Regions from separate parts of the Homo sapiens genome. Here region 2 is reported to be linked to region 1. Evidence: microRNA targets listed by miRTarBase, many of them from high-throughput screens and not tested one by one. Region 1 holds a microRNA gene; the other region holds the end of a gene's coding sequence.

The links. Region 1 holds the annotated microRNA hsa-miR-6511b-5p (CUGCAGGCAGAAGUGGGGCUGACA, at 1,148-1,171, shown strand). A microRNA usually pairs through its seed, bases 2 to 8, with sites in the 3' UTR of a target mRNA and lowers its output. Matches are read on the target gene's strand: a 7mer-m8 pairs with bases 2 to 8, a 7mer-A1 pairs with bases 2 to 7 and ends in A, and an 8mer does both.
Region 2: miRTarBase lists RAB9A as a target of hsa-miR-6511b-5p. The part of its 3' UTR that is shown has no 7-base or 8-base seed match.

Annotation. Positions count from the first base shown.
Region 1 is chr16:15,130,953-15,135,287 of GRCh38, reverse strand. It overlaps MIR6511B2 (microRNA 6511b-2), which reads left to right and starts at 1,143; the gene lies at 1,143-1,213. It also overlaps a transcript of PDXDC1 not described here, the pseudogene PKD1P6-NPIPP1 and the pseudogene PKD1P6.
Region 2 is chrX:13,709,073-13,712,072 of GRCh38, reverse strand. It overlaps RAB9A (RAB9A, member RAS oncogene family), which reads right to left. Exons shown (of 3, transcript NM_004251.5): 3 at 1,569-3,000. The coding sequence ends at 2,721. Among named protein-coding and RNA genes, the nearest start is that of RAB9A, 21 kb to the right of the region's middle.

The DNA of each region.
Region 1 (4,335 bases):
ACCAGACGGTGGGTGCCGCCCGCCCCTCGGCCACTTGCCTTGGACAGCCCAACCTCCCTGCTCATCTACTGTTTTCCGTGTTTTAGTGCTGGTGGAGGCCGCGCGCTCTTCCCTCTCTGTTTCTGATGCAAATTCTACGTAACACGACAGCCTGCTTCAGCTTTGCTTCCTTCCAAACCTGCCACAGTTCCACATACAGTCTTCAAGCCACATATGCTCTAGTGACAAAAGCTACACAGTCCCCCAGCAATACCAACAGTGAGGAAGAGCCCCTTCCCACCCCAGAGGCAGCCACTGTCCCCAGCCCATGTCCCTGTTGCTGGATGTGGTGGGCCGGTTCTCACCCTCACGCTCCCCACTCTGGACCGGCCAGGAGGCTTGGTGACCCTGAGCCCGTGGTGGCTGCTCCTGCTGCTGTCAGGCGGGGCCTGCTGGTGCCCCAGAGTGGGTGTCTGTTCCCCAGTCCCTGCTTTCCTCAACGGGCCTGATTGGGGGTCTGCCCAGAGGGGTCGTCTGAGGGGAGGGTGTGGGAGCAGGTTCCATCCCGGCTCAGCCTCCTGACCCAGGCCCTGGCTAAGGGCTGCAGGAGTCTGTGAGTCAGGCCTACGTGGCAACTGCGGTCCTCACACCCCCACATACGTCTGTTCCCACACGCATCCCCCCAGGGGCCCTCAGTGAGCATTGCCTGCCTCCTGTCAGGGTCCAGCTGGCTCCAGTACACCAGAACGCACACCCCAGTGTCCTCTGCCCTGTGTATGCCCTTCCGCCGCCCAGGTTGGAAGGTGGCAAACCGGATGAGTATCCTGGGAGGGGGTGAGCTCACCGGCAGTGGCCAGGCCCCTGGGAAACCTGGAGTTTGGGAGCAGCATCCTCCACGGGTCCCCCAGACCTTCCAGCAGGCCAAATAGACCTGTGTTGGAGGTAACCCCACTCCCACGCCAGGTGCTGATCCGCAGTGGCCGGGTGCCCATTGTGTCCTTGGAGTGTGTGTCCTGCAAGGCACAGGCCGTGTACGAAGTGAGCCGCAGCTCCTACGTGTACCTGGAGGGCCGCTGCCTCAATTGCAGCAGCGGCTCCAAGCGAGGGGTGAGTGTTGAGCGGGGTGTGGGCGGGCTGGGGATGGGTCCCATGGCCGAGGGGACGGGGCCTGCAGGCAGAAGTGGGGCTGACAGGGCAGAGGGTTGCGCCCCCTCACCACCCCTTCTGCCTGCAGCGGTGGGCTGCACGTACGTTCAGCAACAAGACACTGGTGCTGGATGAGACCACCACATCCACGGGCAGCGCAGGCATGTGACTGGTGCTGCGGCGGGGCGTGCTGCGGGACGGCGAGGGATACACCTTCACGCTGACGGTGCTGGGCCGCTCTGGCGAGGAGGAGGGCTGCGCCTCCATCCCCCTGTCCCCCAACCGCCCGCCGCTGGGGGGCTCTTGCCGCCTCTTCCCACTGGGCGCTGTGCACGCCCTCACCACCAAGGTGCACTTCGAATGCACGGGTGAGTACAGGCCTGCTTAGGGGGAGCAGCGGGATCCCCCGACTGTGACGTCACGGAGCCCTCCCGTGATGCCATGGGGACCGTCCCTCAGGCTGGCATGACGCGGAGGATGCTGGCGCCCCGCTGGTGTACGCCCTGCTGCTGCAGCGCTGTCGCCAGGGCCACTGCGAGGAGTTCTGTGTCTACAAGGGCAGCCTCTCCGGCTACGGAGCCGTGCTGCCCCCGGGTTTCAGGCCACACTTCGAGGTGGGCCTGGCCGTGGTGGTGCAGGACCAGCTGGGAGCCGCTGTGGTCGCCCTCAACAGGTGAGCCAGGCCGTGGGAGGGCGCCCCCGAGACTGCCACCTGCTCACCACCCCCCTCTGCTCGTAGGTCTCTGGCCATCACCCTCCCAGAGCCCAACGGCAGCGCAATGGGGCTCACAGTCTGGCTGCACGGGCTCACCGCTAGTGTGCTCCCGGGGCTGCTGCGGCAGGCCGATCCCCAGCACGTCATCGAGTACTCGCTGGCCCTGGTCACCGTCCTGAACGAGGTGAGTGCAGCCTGGCAGGGGACCTCACATCTGCTGCATGCGTGCTGGGGACCAAGACCTGTACCCCTGCCTGGAGCTTTGCGGAGGGCTTATCCCGGGCCCCAGAGATAAATCCCAGTGACCCTGAAGCAGCACCCCGACGTTCCGCTCCCAGCAGCCACACCCACCGGGCCCTCTCCGGCGTCTGCTTTCCACAATGCAGCCCCCGCCCAGGAGGGCCCATGTGCTTACCCTGTTTTGCCCATGAAGAAACAGCTCAGTGTTGCGGGTCAATGCCCACATCACACAGCATCTAGCACGTAACTGCACCCCGGGAGTCGTGGGCATCTGCTGGCCTCCTGCCGGTCTCCTGCCCTGCTGACAGCTTGCTGTGCCGCCTGCCTGCCCCAGTACGAGCGGGCCCTGGACGTGGCGGCAGAGCCCAAGCACGAGCGGCAGCGCCGAGCCCAGATACGCAAGAACATCACGGAGACTCTGGTGTCCCTGAGGGTCCACACTGTGGATGACATCCAGCAGATCGCTGCTGCGCTGGCCCAGTGCATGGTAGGATGGCCCCACATGCTCACCCCGCCCCGCATGCCTGCCAGGGTACTGGGTTCAGCCCCCCAGGGCAGACGGGCAGCTTGGCCGAGGAGCTGAGCCTCCAGCCTGGGCTCCTTCATGCCATGGCGTTCCTCGGTCTCTGACCTGCTTCAGTAGCCTCAGCCTTTCTGCTGTCCTGTGTGAACGCAGGGTGCCTCTCGGGGGACCCAGGGTGTAAAGAGGGGCCCAGATGTGGGGAGGGACTAAGAAGATGCTGTTCTGTGCCTTCCACTCTCCCCTCCCCTCCCCCTTCCCTCCCCTAGCCCCTCCCCTGCCCCTTCCCTCCCCTAACCCCTCCCCTCCCCCTCCCTCCCCTTGCCCCTCCCCCCTCCCCTAGCCCCTGCCCCCTCCCCTCCCCTCCGCTAGCCCTTCTCCTCCTCCCCTCCCCTAGACCTTCCCCTCACTTCCTCCCGCTGAGCCCCTCCACTCCTCCCCCAGCCCCTCCCTCCCCTAGCCCCTCCCCTCCCCCTTCCTCCCCTCCCCCTTCCCATCCTTATCCCCCTCCCCCAATTCCCATTCTCCTCCCCCTCCCCCTTCCCTATTACCATCCCTTTTCTCCATCTCTCTCCCCTTTTCTCCATTTCCCCCCCGATCCTCCCCGTCCTTTTGTCCATTCCCCTCATCTTTCTTATCCCCCTTATCCTCCTTCCCCTCCCTTATCCCCTTATCCCCCTTCCCCTCCCTTATCCCCCTGCTCCTCCTCTTCTCCCCTTTCTCTTTTCTCTACCCTTTTCCTTCCTTTTTCCTCCCTCTCCCCATCATCCCCCTCATCTTCGTCCTCATCCCCATCCCCTTCCCCCTCCCCCCTCCACCACTCTCTCTCCAGCTTCCCCCTTTCTTCTGCCTGCACCTCGCTCTCTGCCCCCTCAGGTTCCCCCTTTCTCCCAGCCCCCACCCTCCGGCTCCCCCTTTTTGCCTGCCCCCACCCTCCCTCTGCCTCCCTGTCTCTGCACTGACCTCACGTCTGTCTGCAGGAGACCTCATCCACCTGGCCAGCTCAGACGTGCGGGCACCACAGCGCTCAGAGCTGGGAGCCGAGTCACCATCGCGGATGGTGGCGTCCCAGGCCTACAACCTGACCTCTGCCCTCATGCGCATCCTCACGCGCTCCCGCGTGCTCAACGAGGAGCCCCTGACACTGGCGGGCGAGGAGATCGTGGCCCAGGGCAAGCGCTCGGACCCGCGGAGCCTGCTGTGCTATGGCGGCGCCCCAGGGCCTGGCTGCCACTTCTCCATCCCCTAGGCTTTCAGCAGGGCCCCGGCTAACCTCAGTGACGTGGTGCAGCTCATCTTTCTGGTGGACTCCAATCCCTTTCCCTTTGGCTATATCAGCAACTACACCGTCTCCACCAAGGTGGCCTCGATGGCGTTCCAGACACAGGCCGGCGCCCAGATCCCCATCGAGCGGCTGGCCTCAGAGCGCGCCATCACCGTGAAGGTGCCCAACAACTCGGACTGGGCTGCCCGGGGCCACCGCAGCTCTGCCAACTCCGTTGTGGTCCAGCCCCAGGCCTCCGTCGGTGCTGTGGTCACCCTGGACAGCAGCAACCCTGCGGCCGTGCTGCATCTGCAGCTCAACTATACGCTGCTGGACGGTGCGTGCAGCGGGTGAGGCACACGCGGCCCCCTGGCCTTGTTCTTGGGGGGAAGGCGTTTCTCGTAGGGCTTCCATGGGTGTCTCTGGTGAAATTTGCTTTCTGTTTCATGGGCTGCTGGGGGCCTGGCCGGA
Region 2 (3,000 bases), not on the chromosome of region 1:
CTAGGAGTAATTTCAGCAAACGTGTATTTTTTTGTATATAGTTGGCCCCTCCCTCAATGAGCATATCATCCAGAGGGCTGTGATGCAGGGCAGCCAAGAGCAGCAGGGTGATTGATTGAGAGCAGGAAGACTTGGCTCAGCTGCACAACAGTGGTACCCTGAAAATAGCCTTTTCTCCAGGCTGGTGAAGGTGAGGTAGGCACTAGTAACACACTTGTGAGTATATTACTAAAGTTAAATGCCAAATTTCATGTGTGACTGAGTCTTCAAAGGAGCTGGAAGGGAAGTGGAGCATTGAGTGGGACCTCCAAGGTAGGCTGCACAGGAAAGCATTGCAGGTGTGAAGGTGTGAAGAGCACTTGGGCACATGGGTGGAACTGACAGCTGATTGATTGATAGATAGATAGGAGCTGATCATGAGGAAAGCTAAGCTGGCAAAGCTTGGATCTGGTAGGTGATGTTCCTTGAAGGTTCTGGAACACAAGAGCAATGGGGTGAAGTCAGTCTTAAAATCAGGCTCTCCTGAGCACATGTATGTTAGCACAAAGTTGGTTATCTGCTTTAGTGCTCCAAAAGTGATCCAGATAAAACGTACACCGAGTTTTGTCATCTTGCCATAGCCAGAAACTTACTAGGATGCTTCCTTTGGCATGGACATAGATCGTCTCAGTCTCTGCTCTGCCCATGCTATTACCCATGTGCTTTAATTTTTCAGTCACTTCAACACTTCCTGGTTGACAGTCCAGAGTTCCAGAAACCACTGACTCTCCAGACACCACCTTTCACTGGGTACCACACTGGTGTGTTTTTCTACTTAACAAACACTTCACTACTCTACAAGACACGGATATTGTGTGAGAACTTGCATGGTGGTGTCACAATATTAAAATGAAAAGTTTGTACAGAAATATAAAAAGGTTTTCTTCTAAGACAAGTAATAGTAGGAATGTTTTAACTTCAACTAGGAAACTTTCCCCAAGGGTGAAAAATAAAAACATTTAGTCCATTAATGAATTGTAATTTTGTATCTTCCACACAGCACATTGTAATTGTTACATCAGTTAACAAATGCAGGTTTGTCTGTTCTCCAGTTCAGTAGTTTGCTTTTTTTTTTTTTTTTTTTTTTTTTGAGGTGGAGTCTCACTGTCACCAGGCTGGAGTGCAGTGATGTGATCTCGGCTCACTGCAACCTCCACCTTCCGGGTTCAAGTGATTCTCCTGCGTCAGCCTTCCGAGAAGCTGGGACTACAGGCACGATGCCCAACTAATTTTTGTATTTTTAGTAGAGACCGGGTTCACCATGTTGTCAAGGATGGTGTCGACCTCTTGACCTCCAAAAGTGTTGGGATTGCAGGCGTGAGCCACCGCGCCTGGCCTTGCCTTTTTTCTTAAAACCGAACTGTATCTCTGCTGGGGGCAGTGGTTCACTCCCTACATGACAGTCAGCTCCTCTCACCCAGCATGTCCTTTGATATCCCCATCACTCCCCAGTTGAGGGTCTCATCCACACTCAGTCTAGGCTTTGGTTAGCCTCCATAGAATCAGATAGTCACCAACCACACAGCATATGAACTTCATCCACAAAAGACCACAATTTGCTTTATCAAGTCTGATCACTGCAACAAGTCTTTTTCTAACAAAAAATCTCCTTGAGAGCAAATCACTAAATGTTCAGTAATAGAGAAGACACTAAGTAAATACATTGCCGAATAAAGATGTCTTCGTTTACCCTCTCACAAAGTACAATCCTTCTTAGTATTTCTTCTGAGAGTGATAAAGTCAGCTTGTGTCTTGTGTTATAAAGGAATGTTTTAACTTCAATTAAGAAACTTTCCCCAAGGGTCAAGAAAGTAACAAAAATATTTAGTCCATTAATCGAATTGTAATTTTGTATCTTCCACACAGTACATTGTAATTATTACATCAGTTATCAAATGCACATTTGTCTGTTCTCCAAGTTCAGTAGTTAGCCTTTTTCTTAAAACTGAACTCTATCTATGGAAAGGCTTTCCATTCATAGACAACTTGAATTTAGCTGGATGTATTACAGACTGTATGAAGCAACTCTTGTACCACTGGGGGCCCACCCTCCGCCTGAGACTGTGGAACATGATTTATGGGGGTGGGGGTGCATGAATGGCACACAAATGATGAGTAATTACTAGTGAGAGTAATTCTAGTATGTAGAATGAAAACAGGAATGGTTAAATCATTTTGAAGAGAATGAAGAAGTAAATTAACAATGCATTGCAAATACATTAGATTTTAATCTTTAATATCTAACATTATTGCTTTAGGAAAGTATTTCCCTGAACCAAGAATACAATGCTAATTGCATAAAAACATACACATATAAAAAGTAGTTCTCCATTTTCCCAGGAAAAAATCCAAGTATAACTTCTAGAATAGTCAAGTTTCTTATTTTTATTATAATTAAAGTCTTGGTCATTTCATTTATTAGCTCTGCAACTTACATATTTAAATTAAAGAAACGTTATTAGACAACTGTTACAATTTATAAATGTAAGGTGCCATTATTGAGTAAATATATTCCTCCAAGAGTGGATGTGTCCCTTCTCCCACCAACTAATGAAGCAGCAACATTAGTTTAATTTTATTAGTAGATGATACACTGCTGCAAACGCTAATTCTCTTCTCCATCCCCATGTTGATTTTGTGTATATGTGTGAGTTGGTTAGAATGCATCAACAATCTAACAATCAACAGCAAGATGAGCTAGGCTTGGGCTTTCGGTGAAGATTGACTGTGTCTGTCTGAATCAAATGATCTGACCTATCCTCGGTAGCAAGAACTCTTCGAACCGCTTCCTCAAAGGCTGCTGCCACATTTGTGGCATCTTTTGCACTTGTTTCAAAATAAGGATAGTCGCCGTTGTCCCTGCACCAAGCTTGGGCTTCTTCTGTAGACACCTGCCGTTCGCTTATGTCAATCTTGTTACCCAGAATCACAAAAGGAAAGCTCTCAGGCTCTTTCACATCT